Linked DNA regions of Homo sapiens. The protein of the gene in region 2 interacts with the protein of the main gene of each other region in a biochemical or structural test. Each region holds a gene or a part of one and is shown on either strand. Other genes may lie near its edges.

The links.
Region 1: the proteins of TRIM5 (region 2) and SUMO1 form a complex in vitro, tested with the Homo sapiens proteins (one study listed by BioGRID).
Region 3: the proteins of TRIM5 (region 2) and LGALS8 form a complex in vitro, tested with the Homo sapiens proteins (one study listed by BioGRID).
Region 4: the proteins of TRIM5 (region 2) and UBE2W form a complex in vitro, tested with the Homo sapiens proteins (one study listed by BioGRID).
Region 5: the proteins of TRIM5 (region 2) and PRKCG form a complex in vitro, tested with the Homo sapiens proteins (one large-scale study listed by BioGRID).
Region 6: the proteins of TRIM5 (region 2) and RUNX1 form a complex in vitro, tested with the Homo sapiens proteins (one study listed by BioGRID).

What each region holds. Positions count from the first base shown.
Region 1 is NC_000002.12:202,207,397-202,211,182, reverse strand, and holds part of SUMO1 (small ubiquitin-related modifier 1 isoform a precursor), read left to right. Parts: intron 1-376; coding exon 377-448; intron 449-3,180; coding exon of another isoform or gene 3,181-3,315; intron 3,316-3,786. UniProt on the Homo sapiens protein: Ubiquitin-like protein that can be covalently attached to proteins as a monomer or a lysine-linked polymer.
Region 2 is NC_000011.10:5,665,231-5,668,206, reverse strand, and holds part of TRIM5 (tripartite motif-containing protein 5), read left to right. Parts: intron 1-107; coding exon of another isoform or gene 108-308; exon of another isoform or gene 309-489; intron 490-495; coding exon 496-518; intron 519-2,125; coding exon 2,126-2,226; intron 2,227-2,524; coding exon 2,525-2,551; coding exon of another isoform or gene 2,552-2,700; exon of another isoform or gene 2,701-2,811; coding exon 2,812-2,976.
Region 3 is NC_000001.11:236,533,784-236,537,569, forward strand, and holds part of LGALS8 (galectin-8), read left to right. Parts: intron 1-3,713; coding exon 3,714-3,786.
Region 4 is NC_000008.11:73,872,255-73,876,040, reverse strand, and holds part of UBE2W (ubiquitin-conjugating enzyme E2 W), read left to right. Parts: intron 1-3,786. UniProt on the Homo sapiens protein: Accepts ubiquitin from the E1 complex and catalyzes its covalent attachment to other proteins.
Region 5 is NC_000019.10:53,888,534-53,892,319, forward strand, and holds part of PRKCG (protein kinase C gamma type), read left to right. Parts: intron 1-1,104; coding exon 1,105-1,216; intron 1,217-1,352; coding exon 1,353-1,484; intron 1,485-3,140; coding exon 3,141-3,297; intron 3,298-3,786. UniProt on the Homo sapiens protein: Calcium-activated, phospholipid- and diacylglycerol (DAG)-dependent serine/threonine-protein kinase that plays diverse roles in neuronal cells and eye tissues, such as regulation of the neuronal receptors GRIA4/GLUR4 and GRIN1/NMDAR1, modulation of receptors and neuronal functions related to sensitivity to opiates, pain and alcohol, mediation of synaptic function and cell survival after ischemia, and inhibition of gap junction activity after oxidative stress.
Region 6 is NC_000021.9:35,039,041-35,042,826, reverse strand, and holds part of RUNX1 (runt-related transcription factor 1), read left to right. Parts: intron 1-3,400; exon of another isoform or gene 3,401-3,786.

The DNA.
Region 1 (3,786 bases), on a different chromosome or scaffold from region 2:
GATTTAGGGCAAAGTGAATCGAGTAGTGGTCAAGAGCATAGGCTTAGAAACAGGTTTGGGCTTAAATTCTTGGCTAGCTCCAAGCCTTAGGTTCCCTAGCTGTAACATGAAGATAAGGTGGTAATACCTACCTTCCAGGGTTGTTGTGTTTAACACTTATGATTATGTATGTAAAGAATTGGTACAGGGAGGGCCTTGCAAATAGTTGCTACTCAGTACAGTATATAGTATTTATGATTGAATTAGCTTGTCTAATTTTATTTTCTATGTAGTGTTCTAAGGCTTTCATGCTTGCTTTTTGTGCATCAAAGTTACCATTATGTTTTCTAATATTTGTGTGTGTATGTATGCATTATTATTATCTTTACCTTTTTAGGGTGTTCCAATGAATTCACTCAGGTTTCTCTTTGAGGGTCAGAGAATTGCTGATAATCATACTCCAAAAGAAGTGAGTATACTTTTCTCCTGAGTCAAGAAAAAATTTAAATTCTCCTTTGAGCAGTTTGGTTCACTGGTGTTAAAACTGCCCTTTTCTTGAATATTCTCTGATTTAAATGGCATATCATTTGTTGGAGAGAAGAAATAATGTTTTGGGTTGAACTTCCCCTATAGTGCCTTTAAAAGTGCCAATAAAAAGGGTGGTAGAAACAAAATGAGTACTGAAATTGTCATAGGTCACATGCTACATCCTTTTTGAAGATAGACAAATGTTCCTCAAATTTGGTAAATTTCTGGTATACTTTCATGGTGATGGTAACATTAATGGCTGGATTTTCATTTTTGACCTATTTTGAGAATGTTAATACAGAAGCATAGTGTATATTAATATATTTGGCTCTGTCATCTTGTTTTACCCTATTTTTTTATGCTTCTCTGTCTTCATTTGATTTTTTTATTCTATGAGCAGTTTGCTTTGCTTTTATATTCCACCCATCTTCCCTCTATAGAGATATCTCAAAGTAGTGTGTGTGTGTGTGTATGTGTGTGTGTATCTATATACATAGATTCCCTTCATACACAGAGTAACATTACTGATATTTCTGATAGTGGGAACAATATAGGGTTATTAACTTTTTATTTTGAAAATATTTCAAACTTACTGAATTGTGAGAATAGTGTAATACTCTCCTGTATAACTATTCCTTAGATTCACCAATTAAAATTGCACAGCATGTGGGCCAGGCACGGTGGCTCATACTTGTAATCCTAGCACTTTGGGAGGCCAAAGTGGGTGGATTGCTTGAGTCCTGGAGTTCAAGACCAGCCTGGGCAACATGACGAAAACCCGTCTCTACTAAAAATAAAAAAATTTGGCCAGGTGCAGTGGCTTATGCCTGTAATCCCAGCACTTTGGGAGGCCGAGGTGGGCGGATCACGAGGTCAGGAGTTCGAGACCAGCCTGGCCAGTATGGTGAAACCCCGTCTCTACTAAAAATACAAAAATTAGCCGGGCGTGGTGGCATGTGCCTGTAGTCCCAGCTACTCGGGAGTCTGAGGCAGAAGAATCGCTTGAACCCGGGAGGCAGAGGTTGCAGTGAGCCGAGATTACGCCACTGCACTCCAGCCTGGGCAACAGAGCGAGACTCTGTCTCAAAAAAAAAGAAAAAAAGAATTAACTAGGCTTAGTGGTGCATGTTTGTAGTCCCAGCTACTTGGGGGGCTGAGGTGGAAGGATCACTTGAGCCCAGGAGGTCGAGGCTGCAGTGAGCCCTGGTCATGTCACTGTGCTCCAGCCTAGGTGACAGAGTGAGAACCTGTCTCAAAAATAAAGTAAATAAAATAAAATAACATTGTGCAGCATTTGATAGCTGGGATTGGTGGTGCACGCCTATAGTCCTAGCTGCTTGGGAGGCTGAAGCGGGAGGATCACTTGAGTGAGCCCAAAAGTTCGAGACGAGCCTGGATAACAGAGCGAGGAGTCCCCTGTCTCAAAAAAAAAAAAATATTATGTTTTTCTAGTATGACTACTAGAATGCAGTCATAGCTCACTGCAGCCACAAATGCCTGGGCTCTAGCAATCCTATCACTATCAGCCTCCTGAATAGCTGGGATTACAGGCATGTGCCACCATGCTCTGCTTTTAAATTTTTTGTAGAGATGGAGTCTCCCTATGTGCCCAGGCTTTGATCACTTAGTTTAAGTGTTGTCTCTTTTTTTTTTTTTTTTTTTTTACTTTGTAGTTAACTGTTTTTCCTGTTACAATTAAGTAATTTGAGGGGACACACTTTGAAACTATGCGAATATCCCCTTTCTCATCAAATATTCCCCTTAGGTTTAGTGTCCACCACCTTCTTGAACACTTCCTTACTTTCTGGCACAGTAAGAAGTTCCAAACTCATCTTTTACTTTCCTTTAACTTGGCATAATCTCTGGGACCATACAGTAGATATCTAATACATTTTACTGACACATGCCTTACACATTCCTTGTAATTAAGAGATTATTTTTTCAGAGGAATGTTGGTGCAGTGGGAGACAGTAGGTCTTTAGGGAGTGACCCTCCTGTGCTGTTGTTCACTTGTCTCTGTTAATGTACTTCTTGAAGTTTGTAGCTTTATATTCTTTATAGCTCAAGGACTCATGCTGTCTTCCTGTTTTGAAGGTTTCTAATAACACTTGGAATTTTATTCCTTGCAGTATTTACCATGCTATATGGGCAATTAAAATTGTTTTAAAAGCATCTTTTTTTTTTTTTTTTTGAGATGGAGTTTTGCTCTTGTTGCCCAGGCTGGAGTGCAATGGCACAATCTTGGCTCACCGCAACCTCTGCCTCCCGGGTTCAAGCGATTCTCCTGCCTCAGCCTCCTGAGTAGCTGGGATTACAGGCATGCACCACCACGCCTGGCTAATTTTGTATTTTTAGTAGAGACGGGGTTTCACCATGTTGGTCAGGCTGGTCTCGAACTCCCGACCTCAGGTGATCTGCCGCCCCCCCAGCCTCCTAAAGTGCTGAGATTACAGGTGTGACCCACTGCACCTGGCCTAAAAGCATGTTTAATAATTATTTAAATATTCAAATATGTTCCACAACCAAGATAGCTTAACACTACTAGAGCCATTCTGATCACTTTAAAATCCTAAATTCACATGTGTTATGTTTAGATTTCTTAACATACTTTATTTTCATATTTAAAATTCTGCACAAAAATGTTACCTATAAAATTTAAAACTTTTTGGTCAGGCACAGTGGCCCACGCCTGCAATCCTAGCACTTTGGGAGGCTGAGGCGGGCTGGATCACTGCAGGTCAGGAGTTGAGACCAGCCTGGGCAACATGGCGAAACCTCATCTCTACTAAAAATAGAAAAAGTAGCCAGGTATGGTAGCGCACGCTTGTAGTGCTAGCTACTTGGGAGGCTGAGCTGGGAGGATTGGTTGAGCCCAGGATGCTGAGGTTGCAGTGAGCTGAGGTTGAGCCCAGGAGGCTGAGGTTGCAGTGAGCTGAGATTGTGCCACTGTACTCCAGCCTGGGCAATATAATGAGACCCTGTCTCAAAAAACAAAAACAAACAAACACCAAATTAGATATATCCTATTAAACTATCACTTAAACTATTAAATACATGTTTCATTAGATTTAAAAGTTCTTTAACATGGCTGTCAAAAACACTTCAGTTTTATATAGCGAATAAACTGGGAAGTGAAATTGACTCAGGAAAGTAAGATGCATAACTAAATAGACAGAATCAGAAGGAAAGACACCTCTATATTCTTTAGATTAAAGAACACAGGATTCTTAATATTAGAGGAGTGTAAGTATGGGTCACATTTGGATCTCTTTGCACTTT
Region 2 (2,976 bases):
GTCAAACTTCTGGGCTCAAATTCTCCCACCTCATCTTCCCAAGTAGTTGGAACTACAGGCTCATGCCACCATGCTTGGCTAATTTTTTTTTATTTTATTTTTTGTAGAGATGCGGTCATGCTATGTTGCCTAGGCTGTACATCTGTTTAATAAATCAAAGAAGCACTAATTATTTAAATCATTTCATGGAGAGCCATATACGTTTGGAGAAAAACAAATTGTCAGTCACTTCTTTTCCTTCTAAACATGTCCCATCTGCAGAAACCAGGAGCCTCTTCCACAGGGATGAAAGCTATTTCTACTTTTAAGGGAACTTGGAAATCTCACATGAGTCTTCTGGGATGATTGCCTTGAGTCTTATCTTTGCTTTTTTGTCTTTCACACTGTCACCATCTCCATTCTCAGCACATTAGGAACCGGGGGAAATGTGATGAAGCTTTATAAGTGAGGAGAGACTCTTTCTTTCTTAATTGATGTTTTCTCTCTTCTTCCTAGGGTGTGGATGGCGTCATAAAAAGGTATGTGTGGGAGGACAGAGATGGTCCTTTTGTGCAGTGAGGAGAGATTTATAGCCATTAGAATTGTCCTGGGTTTAATTAGAATAAAACATCTCCCAGGGCAGAAAAATTTCGATATTGTTTTATCATAAATTTCTGGTCATAAATCAGCATTCGAATGTTCTATAACTATTAAGAATAGACCAGATTTGGCCAGGTGTGGTGGCTCAAGCCTATAATCCCAGCACTTTGGGACGCCGAGTCAGGAAGATCAGGAGTTTGAGACTAGCCTGGCCAACGTGGCAAAACCCTGTCTCTATCAAAAAAATACAAAAATTAGGGGGGCGTGGTGGCCCGTGCCTGTAATCCCAGCTATTCGGGAGGCTGAGGCAGGAGAATTGCTTGAATCCAGGAGGCAGAGGTTGCAGTGAGCCAAGACCATGCCACTGCACTCCAGTCTGGGCGACAAAGTGAGACTCTGTCTTAGAAAAATCAATAAAATTAAATAAAATTAAAAAAAAGAAAAGGAATAGACCAGATTCTATGGTAGAAAATTTGGGTGGTGGAGACTCGGAGTGTGGGTCAGTAGTGGTTTCAGGGAGAAGGTGTTGCAGTGTTGGACCCCTGCGCCATCACCATTTTATTACCTACATCTAGTTCTCTTTCTGTATTTAATAGGTTCTTGATTTATTTTGGATGGGCCATATCTTCTTTTTCTCTTATATACCCCTAATTGTCCATTGGGACAATTCCCACATGTTTATATTTTCCTCCTGGAAAAAGACCAGTTCCTCTTCATTTATATTTAGATTTCCAAAATCAGATGTTTATTTCCGGAATAATATTTCAAAATAATATTCTGGATAATATGTGGTCATGGTACAAAGAATTGATCCACCTCAGTTGCATTCTTTACAAGAGCATAAAAAGGTGCTATTCTTGTGTCTAAAATCGCACACCTCGCACACCTACGTGGTGGTATCAAGTTCTTTCTAACCACACGATATTCAGGCCAGTAATAGTTTAGTGCACATAATTTCTCATTTGCCAAGTGTTTGTAATTTTTCCCGGAAATCTGAAACCTTAGATGTTATCTGAGTACCTCCCTGCTGGGAATAGCTTTGAAGGTCTTAGGCCTCTCCAAACAGGATTCCTCTCTTGATATGTGTCAAACACCCAGGAGCCAGGTTCTGCAACCTCACTTTCTAACCATCTCCCTGGGAACTCAACATACATAGCGATGATGTTTCCACCCATTAAATGTTAGGGTTTCTTTTGTAAGGCACCAAAGTTTTGTTTTGTTTTGTTTTAAAATCCTTTTTTTTTTTTTTATGTCCTATGAGTTTAAGAATGTAGACAGGGAGAGGTTAATTATTTCATTTTAGAAGGAAGAAACTGTGCTTCTGAGAGGTTAAGATCTTCCCACGTTCTCACAGAAAGTAAGTGGGAAGGCAAACATGAGAACATTTTGTTTGCCTCCAGGGTCAAGAGTTTGCACTCTCCCTTCTCAGGATCCCCAAGAAGAGAGTTCAAGTGCCTCAATGGGTTGAAATGATAGGAAGTCAGGGGTGTTCCACGGACACAAGGTCAAAGGTTTGGAAGTTTTTTTTTTTTTTTTTAATTCTTAGGACGGAGAACGTGACCTTGAAGAAGCCAGAAACTTTTCCAAAAAATCAAAGGAGAGTGTTTCGAGCTCCTGATCTGAAAGGAATGCTAGAAGTGTTTAGAGGTGAGGAGAGCTAGATCAACAACAGGGTTATGGAATTCAAGTGGTGTTAGGGTGCTAAATAGGGAAGAGGGTGCAGTTTCCAAATATGGATAGAGGGGATAGGGGAGGATAGATATTGTCTGCTGCTGATGGGATTATATTTAATGGGAAATGGCTAGGTGGCTGTTTCATCTCATCATTCAGCAATTTACTGCCCTACCATAGGGCATACCTACTCTTTCCCTAATCTGGAGAGAAAATGAATTTCAGTGCTGACTCCTTTGTTTGTATTCAATATTGTGCATTTTTATCATTTCAGAGCTGACAGATGTCCGACGCTACTGGGGTAAGGAGAAGTCACATTATCATAAGCCACCCTGCGGCTTATCATTATTATTATCTTTATCTTTTAGAATTTTATGTTCTCTATTAGGCTCATGTTTTAAGATTTATGATTCTCCTTCCAAGACACACATAACTTACCCCTCCTTATAACTTCTAAACAAGGTTCCTCCCAGTTTTCTCTCAAGTCTTTATCAAGATTTCTCTCATATCACAAATAAAGTTACATTATATCCCTTAGCTGACCTGTTAATTTTTCTACAGTTGATGTGACAGTGGCTCCAAACAACATTTCATGTGCTGTCATTTCTGAAGATAAGAGACAAGTGAGCTCTCCGAAACCACAGATAATATATGGGGCACGAGGGACAAGATACCAGACATTTGTGAATTTCAATTATTGTACTGGCATCCTGGGCTCTCAAAGTA
Region 3 (3,786 bases), on a different chromosome or scaffold from region 2:
ATAGGTAGCCACAGATACACAAGCATACTGTAGGACGGTTCCCATGAAGAGGCATCTGTTGTCACCACTGGACACAGATGGTACTGTGTCTCTGCTACTCTACCAATGCCACTGCTGTCTCTGACCCCAGATGTAGCTCCCTCTGACCCTGGATGCAGCTCCCTCTGACCCTCGATATAGCTGCCCCTGACCCCGGATGTAGCTGCCTTTGACCCCAGATGTAGCTTTCTCCAAACCCAGATATAGCGGCTGCCCCCTTGCCAGAGTGAATACTGCGTCATTGTGGCTTCTTCTTGTCACTGGTTCTTACTTAAAAGCTGAGCTGGAAGTTCTAATGGGCAGTTTTGTCACCTGCTCTTACCTTGTTGCAGTCTAGATGAGGTCTAATGTTCATAAGCTAGGGGATTTTCAGATATGGAAAGGGATACCAATTTTCAGCAGCCAAATAGAGTATCACATTTTCACTCCATGTTTCCTGGGTGTCTGTTATGTTTCCTGGGTGTCTGACTCTTAGGCTTCTTTCAAGCTGCAGTCTGCCTAATAGAGAGCCTTGCATTTAATCATCAAAAAGGCAAAGCAATATGAATCAGCAAGGGTGTTTTGGGAAATAACAGCAAACCTGACTGTGGCGTAAGCTTGTGGTATTGTCTCCAGTGTGATCAGATCTGTATTTTAATTTTTTAAATGTAAATTAATAATGATCTGTGAATCACCAAAGTAGCTTGGAGTAGCCTAGAAAACAATGTATGTCCTCCGTTTTCACAGAAGCCACATAGTCGTGGGTTAAATGAGTCAGCGGCAGGGCACTGTGTCTCATAGTTAAAAAAAAAAAAAAGTATTACTGAAGTAATGCAGGATCTTTTCTGAAGTAGAAGGCATGATGAACCCAGAAAACTAAAGCAGCAAGTGGCCACCGTTCTTAGCATAGTTGTTTCTCAAACTGGAACAACCTATAAACAGTTGTGAACAAGGTATTAGAAGTGATGGGGGCCGGGTGCGGTAGCTTCTCCCAAAGCTCATTACCTCCCAAAGCAACCCCAGTACTTTGGGAGGATCACTTTGAGCCCAGGAGTTCCAGACCAGCCCGGCCAACATGGCAAAACCCCATCTCTCTAAAAGTACAAAAAATTAGCTGGGCATGGTGGCACATGCCTGTAGTCCCAGCTACTTGGATGGCTGAGGCAGGAGAATCGCTTGAACCCGGGAGGCAGAGGTTGCAGTGAGCTGAGATCACGCCACTGCACTCTAGCCTGGGGGACAGAGTGAGACTCTGTCTCAAAAAAAAAAAAAAAAAAAAAAAAGTGATGGGAATAGATTGTTTTGTCTCAAAAAGCTCTTTCCAACACTAAAATGAAACATATAATTAAAAATATTTTTCTGGCTATAGAAATATCGATGCTTATTATAGACATCTGCAAAGTATGAAAATATATGAAGAAAAAAATTAAAATCCCATCATCCCCCATGAAAACTATTGTTATCATTTTTGTCTGATTTCTTTAGTGTTTCTCTTTTTCTTTTTTTAATTTTTAATTTTTTTGAGTATGTAGTAGGTATATCTATTTATGGGGTATATGGCATATTTTGATACAGGATACAGTGTGTATTAGCAAGGTTTTCTTTTTAATGTTTATATTTATTTAGTTGAGATCATACTATATATGGCTCTATAGATTACTTTCTCACTTATATTACTAACTTGTGTTATTAAATATTCTGCATAAAGATAATTTTAAGATGAAATTTGATGTTATAAAAACTTCTCATTTTATTAAGAGATTAACGCTATGAAACCTGCTGCTATATATTCTTGGAACCAGCTGTGACCCAAAAGATCAATGTAGGGATGTAGGTCCTTCCCCATTCTCTACACACAAAATCAGATACTCTGATGTGCAGCTGTAGCCCCAGTCTACACTGTCTGTTGTATTTTTTGTTTTCTGGTGTCATGTGCCTCCCACCCTGCTCCTAGCAATTGCCATGACAACAAATAGATAATTGGCTTCCGTAATTTCTCATCTTATTGCCTAAGGCAACAGAGAGCTTGTGGGCTCAGCTTGCGGTTCAGCAGCTGCTTTGTTGCCTCTCCTCTGTATGTGTGAGGCCTGCCAGAGCCCACTTTCCAGACAGGTGAGAGTTCATTCATTCACCATGCAGTTACCGATCGTCTCTTGACCTGTGTCCTGGGGAGGTAAAGGTGATGAGCCAGTTCTGCCCCATGCAGCTCACAGTCTAGGCAAAGCTACATGCAAACAAACAGAATCCAAAGTGCTATCATGAACCCTCTGAGAGGGGCTGACTCAGCAGCCCAGGGAGCTTGAAGAAGGCTCCACAGAGGAGGCTGTGCCTCAAGGCGATTTCGGTTTAGGAGCCACCAATTTATAACCACTTTTCTGTGGCCCGTCTTATTTTATTTCTTATTTCTTGACAATCAGAAGTACCTTGGGTAGGTTTTACCATGCACATCGTAATTTGAGTGAGCTTAGTGTGAGGCTTAACGGTGTGTGGGCTGTACATCCTGGTCAGATGCTCTAGATGGAGGCAGATGGTTGTGATGCAGGAGAGGCAGCCACATAGCACAGGTCCCCAGCCAGTGGACTGGGAAGACAGTGTAGTCATCTCTGGGGAAGGGGAATGACAAGATCTGGCAGTGTGGCAGGTCCCAGAAAAAAAGGGCTGGGTTCTGGGCAGTGAGGGTGCAGGTTGAGACCTGAATACTGGGTGGAGCCAGCTGTCAGAGTCCACGCCTGCAGACTGGACTGGTCCACGGCAGGTGGATGCCATGTCTTGAAGACCCACAGGCACCCACTCATCCTCATGATCATGCAGTTCTCTGGTTTCTAACAGTGCAGTCTGGGTTGCAGTCTGGGAGTCCAGCAGAGAAGAGCAGGCCCTGGAATCCCAGGTGTGGGGGCGTGGCTTAACGTGGAGTTTCCTTCAGAGGCAGTGAGTGCTTGTCATTGTCTCCGTCAGCATTGGCTTTGGGCCTAGTGTGGCCTCGAACCTTCTGTTGGGATCAGCAGTGGAACAGTAGGAAAAGGAATGAGTAGACATGGCATTGCAACAAGTCTTTTTTTTTTTTTCTGTTAGAATTATCATATTAAGCAGAAGTTTTGCTTCACAAACTCTCAGCCAAATACAAAATACTATGAATAGTATTTACCTTGTGTCTCTTTCCAAAGAACTCATAGTGGTTTGCAGCTATTGCAGATATCCTGGCCATGAGGTATGCAGTTCCTTTTTTTTTTTTTGAGACGGAGCCTTGCTCTGTCGCCCAGGCTGGAGCATAGTGGCGCGATCTCGGCTCACTGCAAGCTCCGCCTCCCAGGTTCGTGCCATTCTCCTGCCTCAGCCTCCCGAGTAGCTGGGACTACAGGCGCCCACCACCACACCCGGCTAATTTTTGTATTTTTAGTAGAGACGGGGTTTCACCGTGTTAGCCAGGATGGTCTCGATCTGCTGACCTCGTGATCCTCCCGCCTCGGCCTCCCAAAGTGCTGGGATTACAGGCGTGAGCCACCGCGCCCGGCCGCAGTTCCTTTTTCTAGCTGTTTGAATAGGAAAGATGACTTGGAAAATGCTGGATTCTGAGCAGATTTATGTGCAGCCTTAAAAAGTGTAGTTTTTCTCTATCAATAATGAGTGTGGGTTGTAATTGCTTAGTAAGTAATTTTGTTTATGTAAACGTACATTTGTTAAATTTTTTTTCTTAGGTAATCCCGTTTGTTGGCACCATTCCTGATCAGCTGGATCCTGGAACTTTGATTGTGATACGTGGGCATGTTC
Region 4 (3,786 bases), on a different chromosome or scaffold from region 2:
TCGCTGTGTTGCTCAGGCTGGAGTGCAGTGATGCCATCTTGGCTCACTGCAACCTCCGCTCCCAGGGTTCTAGCAATTCTCCTACTCAGTCTCCTGAGTAGCTGGGATTACAGGCGCTGGCCACCACGCCCAGGTAATTTTTTTTGTGTTTTTAGTGGAGACTGGGTTTTGCCATGTTGGCCAGGCTGGTCTTGAACTCCTGACCTCAGGCGATCCACTCGCCTCGGCCTCCCAAAGTACTAGGATTACAGGTGTGAGCCACTGCACGCGGCCAAGTGTGTTATTATATTAGAAGGTGATAGTGCAGTGGAGAAAAAGCATGGAAGAAGACTAGGAAATTGATCATTTGGGGATTTCGATTAGGAAAAAATAAGCTGTAACATGGAATGACCATGTCCTTAACCCAAAAAGCTTTTAGTAGATTTATCTAACCCACACCAGGATGTTGCTGCTGCTGCTGAAGTTACTTAAGCTCTAAGAGGAACTGTATTTTTTTTAAAATGCCATATTATACAAATGTAACATGGGATTTCATTACTTGGTAATGAGTAAAACAAGTAAGGGTAGACTTTGAATTTCTTATTGGAGAGTATGTATTTTAAAGTTGAGCTAGTAACTGCTTTAATGTATTCTGTCAGTGCGTCTCAACCATCTTTTAGGTTCTGCCCACATAGAAAGTAAGTTTTGAATAGTACACTAAAGTAGATGAGATTGGGAGGCTAGAAGCACCTGGCAGGCAGCACCTCATGAAACTCCCGGGATGGGAGATCAATATTCTGGCACACCTGTAAATGCTGGGGACGCTCTACTCCCTAATATTGCTAGAGTTCTGCCATATACAATTCAAGATAGTGGTTTTCAGACTTATGTGATCCCTTTGAGACATTCTTTACTCATTTTCTTTTTTTCTTTTCCTTCCTATTGTTTCTTCCTAGAAAAAAGTAATGTATCACCAAGTAAGATTACAGTTAAATTATGTTTTAAGAAACCTTTTCTTTTTTGGAGACAGGGTCTCACTGTGTCACCCAGGCTGGAGTGCAGTGGCGCTGTCTCGGCTTGCTGCAGTTTCAACCTCCCTGGGCTCAAGTGATCTTTTCCATCTCAGCCTCCTGAGTAGCTGTGACTACAGGTTTTTGTATTTTGTAGAGACAGGTTTCACTATGTTGCCCAGGCTGGTCTGGAACTCCTGGGCTCAAGCAGTCACCTGCCTTGGCCTCCCCAAATCCTGGCATTACAGGCGTGAGCCTATGTGCCCAGTCTTAAGAAACCATCATTAAGAGAATGTTATATTTGTGGTGATACCTAAAATTGATAGGAGTTAAACAGATCTACATTTAATTTTGGTAATTCTAAAAATCTTTAAATATTACATGAAAAGTTTCTTGTAGCAAATTTTTAGTTTTAGCGTTTTAGGGACTGATTATTTGGTAGAAACTTTTATCCCCAAACTGCAGAAGCATTCTTTTATTGAAGTGAATTTTTATGTGATTCTAAACATTTTTGAAAGTGTAGCAGTATTGAGGTATTCTTTTCTCAGGTGAATCCTAAAATTGAATTTTTTGTTGTTGTTGTTAAATGCTTTTTTAAAATTTTATTTTATTTTATTTTTTTGAGACAGAGTCTCGCTGTCGCCCAGGCTGGAGTGCAGTGGTGCGATCTCGGCTCACTGCAGGCTCCAATCCCCGGGCTTCATGCCGTTCTCCTGCCTCAGTCTCCCGCGTAGCTGGGACTACAGGCGCCTGCCACCTCGCCCGGCTTATTTTTTGTATTTTTAGTAGAGACGGGGTTTCACTGTGTTAGCCAGGATGGTCTCCATCTCCTGACCTCGTGATCCGCCCGCCTCGGCCTCCCAAAGTGCTGGGATTACAGGCGTCAGCCACCGCGCCCGGCCGTGTTTTTAAATTTTATAACCTTTTTTCTTTCCTATGTATTATTTAATGTTATGAAGTACTTGACCTCCTGGATATAATTTCTGATTTTAGAATTTAACTGCTTCATTCAGACTTCTCGTAAGTTAGCAATTTTAACATATATGCTGTCTAATTTTCTAATTTGACATTCTAGAATTGTTAATTTTAGATAAAACCTCCTGTTACGTTGTGTCTTAAGATCTTAGAAAGTCAGTGCATAGTAGTTGATGTTTGTCAACTCTAAAAACAGTGATATAATTGAGAGAAATGGTCAGTTGAATTACCCTTGTGAAATTTCTGCATTTACTTCCTCTCTTACCTAGCTGGGTCTTAGACTGTTAACTGTCAATTTGTAGGGATGGAAGGAGGTTGAGATTTAATAACAGGAGATAAAGTATGAATGTGTGCTTATTTTCAGACTTAGAAATAATGCATTATTTTGGATTATTCACAGCTTTTAAAATTTTTTCTCTCTGAGACAGGGTCTCACTCTGTCACCCAGGCTAGAGTGCAGTGACGTGGTCTTGGCTCACTGCACCCTTGTCCTCCCAGGCTCGGGTGATCCTCCCACTTCAGACTCCCAAGCAGCTGGGACTATAGACACGCCACCATGCCTGGCTAATTTTTTTATTTTTTGTAGAGATGGGTTTTTTCCCTGTTGCTCAAGTTGGCCTTGAACTCCAGGACTCAGCCATCGGCCCACCTTGGCCTCCTAAAGTGCTGGGATTATTACAGGATGAGCCATTGCCCCCAGCCCACTGCTCTTTGCTCAAGTAATTGGCTATAGTGATTGAGAGAGATGGAACATGGACTCTTACAGACATTACTGTTGTAGTAGTCATGTTGCCTTGACAGTTAGATACGACGTCTGTTTGTTGATGTCAGTATGGAAGGGTTACAACATAATTAAAAGTTAGAAAATAGGCCAGCATGGTGGCTCAAGCCTGTAATCCCAGCACTTTGGGAGGCTGAGGTGAGTGGATCACCTGAGGTCAGGAGATCGAGACCAGCCCGGCCAACATGGTGAAACCTAGTCTCTACTAAAAATACAAAAAAAATTAGCCAGGCGTGGTAGAGCGCATCTGTAATCCCAGTTATTTGAGAGGCTGAGGCAGGAGAATCCCTTGGGCCCAGGAGGCGGAGGCGCCTTGCAGTGAGCGGAGATCATGCCACTGGACTCCAGCCTGGGCGACAGAGTGAGACTCCAGCTAAAACAAAAAAAAAAAAAAGGAAAAAAAAAAAGGATTATCTTTGAACAGTAAAAATTTACAATTATAATTTTACTCAGTACACAAGTATACACATGAGAACTTCTTTTTAAAATATGATACATAAAGTAACCTTGTGTTATAAACTCAGGAATATTTCTTCTTTTCTTTAGCTATAAAAACTATAAAGTAGTTTAGTAAATGCTTAATTCTTGACTGAAAAGTTACATAATTACACCAATGATTTCTCTGTGATGCCAAACTGTGTTCATTACTTACACCTTCACAGCATCAACAGATTTCAGAGCTTAGTTTCACTACTCAGTTACTGTGTAATTTTGAGTAAGTCACTTTCCAAATAAGTACATACTTACCAGCAGTTACTGCTATGTCTCTATTAGAATGAAATTAGGTTAGTTGACTTCCTTTTTTATAAAGAATATGAAGATACTATGAAGAACATTACAGTTATGGCAAACGCATGCAGCAAGAAAATAAGCCACTTTTTTGGTATATTATATAAATATGAATTTTAAATTATTCCTTTATAGGTACTGAACCTTACTATTGTAGAACTGCTTAATAGACTGACCTAAAATAGAATTAAACTAATGCAGAATTAGCTATTTAGGAATGCTTTTTGAAGTGTTAAGTAATGGACAAATATT
Region 5 (3,786 bases), on a different chromosome or scaffold from region 2:
CAAATCACACAGCTGAGAAGCGGCCTAGCTCTTACTTACATTCAGGGCTATGTAGGGACTTCAATAAAATCCCTAACAATAACCACAGTAATAGTATTGGGAGCATCTAACGTGGTAGGCACAGCTATGTTTTGTACACCAATTATTTTATTTAGGCCTCCTGGGTTCCTATTATAACTGAGAGGTCATGTTCTCCATTCCACCTGGAGCTCAGAGAAGGCATACCATATGGACACTGACAGAAGCTGCCAGTGAAGGAGCTGGGGTTCAGGGTGGCCCACAAGTCCTCAAATAATAACTTGTGGGAGTTGGGGGGATGGGAACTATGGGAGGTTGGAAGCTCCTGCCTCCTTCATGTTCTGCCCAGATATCATTTGGTCAGCGAGGCCCCCCTGCCACTCCCCCTGCACACAGTTTTGTTGTTGTTGTTGTTGTTTGAGACAGAATCTTGCTCTGTCATCCAGGCTGGAGTGCAGTGGCACAATCTTGGCTCACTGCAACCTCGGCCTCCTGGATTCAAGCAATTCTCATGCCTCAGCCTCCTGAGTAGCTGGGATTACAGGCATGCACCACCATGTCCGGCTAATTTTTGTATTTTTAGTAGAGACAGAGTTTTGCCATGTTGCCTAGCCTGGTCCGGAACTCCTGAGCTCAAGGCAATCCGCCCACCTCGGCCTCCCAAAGTGCTGGGATTACAGGCATGAGCCACCGCACCCAGCCAGGACCACCGTATTTAAAATTTCAATCCCCCAACTTCTGGTGGTCCCCATCCCTGCCTCATTTTTTCTCCAGAGCACCCATTACCAACCATCAAACTATATGTTTTATTTATTTACCATGTTTACATTCTGTATCCCTCCATTAGGAAGTAAACTCCATGTGACAAAGAGGTTTTTTTTTTTCATTTGTTTAATGCTGGGTCCCCACACCAAGAACAGTCCCTGGCACACAGCAGGTGCTCAATGATTATTGGTACATAGAGTGAAAGAGATGGAGCCTCAGGCTGACCTAGAGAGCAAGGCAGGAGGAAAAGATAAAAGGGCCCCTCCCCTGGGGTTTTAGGACCCTCCCAACGCCCCCTAAGCCAGTCTTCTCTGCCCCCAGGACCCCCGGAACAAACACAAGTTCCGCCTGCATAGCTACAGCAGCCCCACCTTCTGCGACCACTGTGGCTCCCTCCTCTACGGGCTTGTGCACCAGGGCATGAAATGCTCCTGTGAGTGACCTGGGCCTTGCCAGGGCCCTTCCAAAGCGCCCGGTCTGGGTTCCGGGAAATGCCCGGGATGGGGTGGGGGGTGGAGTCTTGGCTTGGGGGCGGGGCCTGAGGTGCTACCCGCAGCTTTCCCCTCCAGGCTGCGAGATGAACGTGCACCGGCGCTGTGTGCGTAGCGTGCCCTCCCTGTGCGGTGTGGACCACACCGAGCGCCGCGGGCGCCTGCAGCTGGAGATCCGGGCTCCCACAGCAGATGAGATCCACGTAACTGGTGAGGCCCCGCCCCCTCGCCTGGCCCCGCCCCCTCCCCAAGTGTGAGGCGGGGCTGACCCAAGGCACTTGTGCTGGCCCAGCCCTACCCCAAAGATGGGGCCACGCCTCTTTCTATGGTCACGCCCACACTCCTGACCCCACCCCAAAGGCCGAGCACACCCAGCCATACCCCTTTTGGCTCGAAGCCCCGCCTCCAACCTGGCTTCTTGCAACTTTCTGCACCTGTTAATGACTTTGACTTTCTTTTTTTTTTTGGGACGGAGTTTCGCTCTTGTTGCTCAAGCTGGAGTGCAATGGCGCGATCTCGGCTCACTGCAACTTCCGCCTCCCGGGTTCAAGTGATTCTCCTGCCTCAGCCTCCCGAGTAGCTGGGATTACAGGCGCGTGTCACCAAGCCCGGCTAATTTTTTGTATTTTTAGTACAAACGGGGTTTCACCATGTTAGCCAGGCTGGTCTCGAACTCCTGACCCCAGGTGATCCCCTCGACTCGGCCTCCCAAAGTGCTGGGATTAACAGGCGTGAGCCACCGCGCCTGGCCAATGGCTTTCTTTTTTGTTTTTATTTTATGTTTATTTTTTTGAGATGGAGTCTTGCTCTGTCACCCAGGCTGGAGTGCAGTGGTGCAATCTTGGCTCACTGCAATCTCTGCCTCCGGGGTTCAAGGGATTCTCCTGCCTCAGCCTCCCGAGTAGCTGGAATTACAGGCGCCTGCCACCACATCCGGCTAATTTTTTTTTTTTTTTTTTTTTGAGACAAGATCTCGCTCTGTTGCCCAGGCTGGAGTGCAGTAGCATGATCTCAGCTCACTGCAACCTCCGCCTCTCAGGTTCAAGCGATTCTCCTGCTTCAGCCTCCTGAGTAGCTGGGACTACAGGTGCATGACACTGCACCCAGCTCATTTTTGTATTTTTAGTAGAGACAGGGTTTCACCATGCTAGCCAGGCTGGTCTGGAACTCCTGACCTCAGGTGATCCGCCCGCCTCCGCCTCCCAAAGTGCTGGGATTACAGGGGTGAGGACCGTGCCCGGCAATGGCTTTCTGGGTATAAGGATCTTGAGAAGGGAGAGTACCTGGTTCTGAGGGAGGCTGTGGTTCAGTACTGGTGACATGGCCAGGGTCCAAACTCTGGTTCCTAATGGAGAGAAGGGCTCTGGATCTGATTTCAGGGTCACTGGTTGCGGAAAGGGCTCTATGCCCTGTCTTCTGGGTTCTGGAGAGGTAAGAAGTCATGAGAAACGAGACTGAGAGCTTGGAATTCTTTTTTTTTTTTTTTTGAGACGGAGTCTCGCTGTGACGCCCAGGCTGGAGTGCAGTGGCGTAATCTCGGCTCACTGCAAGCTCCGACTCCTGGGTTCACGTCATTCTCCCGCCTCAGCCTCCTGAGTAGCTGGGACCACAGACACCTGCCACCACGCCCAGCTAATTTTTTTTTTTTTTTGTATTTTTAGTGGAGACGGGGTTTCACCATTCACAGGATGGTCTCGATCTCCTGACCTTGTGATCCGCCCGCCTTGGCCTCCCAAAGTGCTGGGATTACAGGCATGAGCCGCCGTGCCTGGCCAAGCTTGGAACTCTTGATTGCTGACTGGAGGAGGGCTGGGAGCCCCTTCCTGGATCTCTAACCCGTCACACTCTTCCTCACTCCCCGTTTAGTTGGCGAGGCCCGTAACCTAATTCCTATGGACCCCAATGGTCTCTCTGATCCCTATGTGAAACTGAAGCTCATCCCAGACCCTCGGAACCTGACGAAACAGAAGACCCGAACGGTGAAAGCCACGCTAAACCCTGTGTGGAATGAGACCTTTGTGTTGTGAGTCTGGGGTGCAGGGAAGGCAATGACAGCTGACAGAGAATGATCTGAGGGTCCTAGTGGCCCCCAGAGAGCAGCTGATGGGAGGGGTTAGGATAGAGGGAACCCAGAAAAGGGCAGAAGAAGATGGTGGGAAAAGGGAATAGAGTGATTGAGGGAGTGGGATGGAGATACAGAAACGGAGAGACAGCCAGACCACTGTATAATTAGTCTCCATTGAAGCCCCCAACTTTAGAGTTAGACAGAGATGAGAGAGAGAAGAGAGAGTCTCAGAAGAGGCAGAAACCCAAAGAGAGACACAGATGGAGAGGGAGGGGAGAAGATGGGGGATGGCAGGGAGACAGAGATCAGTTGACAGGAAGACAGAGTGATAGAGACCCAGAGAGGAGAGAAGGGTACAGAGACTCAGAGAGAGAGATCTCGAGAGACAAGAGACAGAGATGGGAAGGGGCGGAGAATGCAGGAGGAAGGGAGAGGAAGAGCTCTCTA
Region 6 (3,786 bases), on a different chromosome or scaffold from region 2:
ATTATGTTTGGCTGCACGTAGAGAAAAGCTGACCACAGTGGCTTGAGCAGACGGGCAGGAGTTCCAGAGTGAGCAGTCCAGGCTGATACGGTGGGGTGCAGGACACTCCTATGTTTTGGTCCCACCATGCTGAGGCCAGGGAGAGATGGCCTGCACCTCTGATCTGTCCAGGCAGAAAGGACATGGGAGGCCTCAACCCCTTCTTGTGGGTCCTGGTATTTTTATTCAGGAAGGGAAGCCCTTCTCTGCAAACTTTCGCTGACATATTGCTTAGGCCACAACTAGGTCACAGGCCTCTGGCTGGAGGGAACTGAGGACAATGGAGTTGTCACTTTCCAGCCTGGAGAGTGGAGGGAAGCAGAGAGGAAGGTAGCTGGGAGCAGATGTCTCGTGAACCCAGAGCCACATCTGCCAGACCTGGTGACAAAGACAGGCTGTGTGCCTTCCCAGTCATATCTTGTATCATTTGTTTTCTGTGCCAGCTGGGCTTTGGAAACAAATGCAGAGAAACTTTATGTTCTTCCTTCATTCCCTCTTGGAAGTTGCAGATGGATGCCAAGGGTGAATATTTATTGTTGACCCATTGAAAGCAAACTGGACAGGAGAAGGGATGAGGTGGGGGAAGGGGCTAGGTTAAATGGATCCAAGTTCACACCTATTTTCAGTGTCAAAGCCCCAAATCACACTTGAGCGTCTCCTCAAGTTAGAATGAGCAATAGAAAACCAGACAGCCCTGTATCTATGGGAATGTTGCTTGCATCAGAGCCACCACACCTTGCTGTGAGGTTGATCGGTTTCTCGCAGCTGGAAATAGTTGCTTCCCGCCCCCCATCTTCCTCACTCTTTTAAACTCTCAAAAATCCCCCAGCCTCCCAAATTTGTTTTAATTTTTAAGAGAATTCTTTTCTACAAAAGAGGGAAACCTTCTTTCAAATGGCCCTTCATAAATTTCCCTAAAGAGGTTTTTATCTCTGATAGAAATATGAAAAACAGATAACCAGATAATTGCCCTCTATCTAGGCTTTAAACACTTATTCATACATTGAATTTCTGCAAGTTACAGATGATTGTTGCTGTGTGATTACTGGCCCTGTCTATTTCCTCAGCATGGATGCAAATCTTTCTCCCTGAGAAAGTCATTGCTTCGTTAAAAAAAAAAAAAAAAAGAAAGAAAGAAAAAGAAGAAAGAAAGGATGAATGAAAAGAAAGTTGTTATTCAGTTTTTCTCTTGAAATTAGAAATTTCTTTTTGTTTTGCTTTCATTTTGTTTTTCTGCAAGATCGGTGTTCATTTAGAGAATTGTTGATTTTGTATGCAGCACTGCCCTCCCATGCCATGGTCCATATGTGTCCATTTTTTGATGGACTTCTTTTTAAACAATGAGTTCCCCAAGACATTTTTGGGGCCTCAAATGGGAAAGGTCATCACAAATAGAAATCTCAGTTTGCTAGTTGGGCTTGCTCAATCGCTCTGCTGATCTCAGGACTGATGCTGCTTTGCATAAATGCGAAGTTCATGTTAAATTGATTCTAAATCAAATACTCAACGTATTCAGTCTTGAAACATGTCCATTGGGAGAGAGAACTATGCAGCTCCAACATTTTGCAAAGATTCTACTTTGCTTTCTTTGCCAACATCCAACTTTTACTTCTGGGCGTTAGAATACCCTCCGTAGAGACTGTGACTTCTCAAAAGAAACTTTGCTAGTCTCGAATGGAGAATGAAATAATAAGATTTGAGCAATAAATCAAATATAGCCTGAGAGCAACACCACAGAGCAGCCTCTGTCATCTCCTCTCCTTGGGAGGTACGTGGGTCTTGATCAGCTCTCATGTGCTTCTGAAAATGTGTAGGTTTTCATATATATGTTTTTCATTGTTAGTAGATCCTAAAGAAAGACCCAGAAAATCTTGCAGCAGTCAGCTTGCCAGATGGGGGTTATGTTAAAAAGAGCAAACAGAAGTCAGAGCTCTGAACACACCGCAGGGTATTCCATAGTCACATTCCATTGTGGGTGAGTTTTTGTTGTTGGTTTTTTTTTTTTTTTTTTTTTTTGGATGGAGTCTACTAGCTCTGTCACCAGGCTGGAGTGCAGTGGCCCCATCTCAGCTCACTGCAATCTCCGCCTCCCACGTTCAGCCATTCTCCTGCCTCAGCCTCCTGAGTAGCTGGGATTACAGGTGTGTGCCACCACGCCCGGCTAATTTTTGTATTTTTAGTAGAGACAGGTTTTCACCATGTTGGCCAGGATGGTTTCGATCTCCCGACCTCGTGATCTGCCCGCCTCAGCCTCCCAAAATGCTGGGATTACAGGTATGAGCCACTGCACCCGGCCCATCCTAGGTGAGTTTTTTAAGGGAGACAAAAAATGTCAGAGTGGCACTCATTGCTCAAGAGAGAAGCACTTCCCCTTTTACTGTGCAAAATTTTATAATATGTATAGCTATCAATGTTTGTTTCTTATTACTGCCCCAGAATGTGCAAAAGAGAGTTTAGGTCAACTAAGATACATTGGTTTGAGTGCCATTTTTTTCAGGAGCAGTTTTAACACCAACCACAGTTTGCTGCACTTTCTTACACAGCTTCTGTTTGCACTTTGAACTCTGTGCACTGAGCCCCTCATTCCACACCATCTGCAGGCTGCATCTGGGCAGCTTCATCCAGCTCGGTAACAGTCACAGCTGAACTTGACATTCACCCACTTTGAAAGTATAGAATTCATAAAATCTGAAACCACATATGTGTATAAAACCCATGCAAGAGTGGGTAGGAACTAAAAGGAGGAGAAAAAGTAGTCCTCCCCTTCAGGAGTGTTCTCTCTTATCCCAGCCCCTTTCATGTAATGAATGGGTGAATGGGTGAAAATGAAATTATTTAGGCATTGACTGACAGGTAGGAACAGAAACTCAGGCTTCTAGTTTATTATTATTTATTATTATTGAATCTACTGTTTCTAAAGATGAGAATGGCTTTTACTTCCAAAGTTCTAGAGGAGAGGAACAACGTTAAGCAACCTTAAACAAATATTAGCACTGTGAAAGGTGCAGGGTCATATAAAGAAGTAGAAGTGCCGACAATGAAAATTCTATCCAACTGTCAATCATTCCATATCATTACTTCATTTTTTTAAATAAAGGCTGTGTCTCCCATATGCTTCCCTCCAGGTTGTATTCAAAACAAAGAAATAATTGTATTACAGATGTGAATAAATCTGTTTAAAAAATAAGTGAACCCTGAGACATATGAACTATGAGACATTGTTCTATATGATGCTTTGTAAGTTTTATGTGCTGTGTCATAGAGTTATATAGAGTTATGTATATATATAGTTCTGTATAGTTTCAGTTGGCATCTAAAAATTATATAACTTTATTTTTTAAAATCTATAATTATAAATATTTTTAAACTGCTAGAAAGGAAGAGCCGAATATTTGGCTGGAGTGATTTTTAGACATTTCTCTACCTTAGGGCACCAGAGAGGTTCACTTGCCCAGGGTTCCATAGCTGGTTGGTGCCAGAGTCCGAACGAGAAACCAGGTCTTCTCAGCTCCTGTCACCCACAGTTTTGCAGACACTGAATTTATGAGGTGGATTCCATTCAAGCATGCACATAACTAGCAGACACTTCTCCTAATCCTCCTCAATTCCCCTTTGCATTGCTCAGATACCACAATCCTTTGCAGGTTAAATCCCTTCACCTTGTGAACTCATTAGGCAGGGCAATGTATATGAATCCCTGAGTCCTTAAGAACGTCCTTAGGCTGTGTTAGAAATGCAGTTGCCATA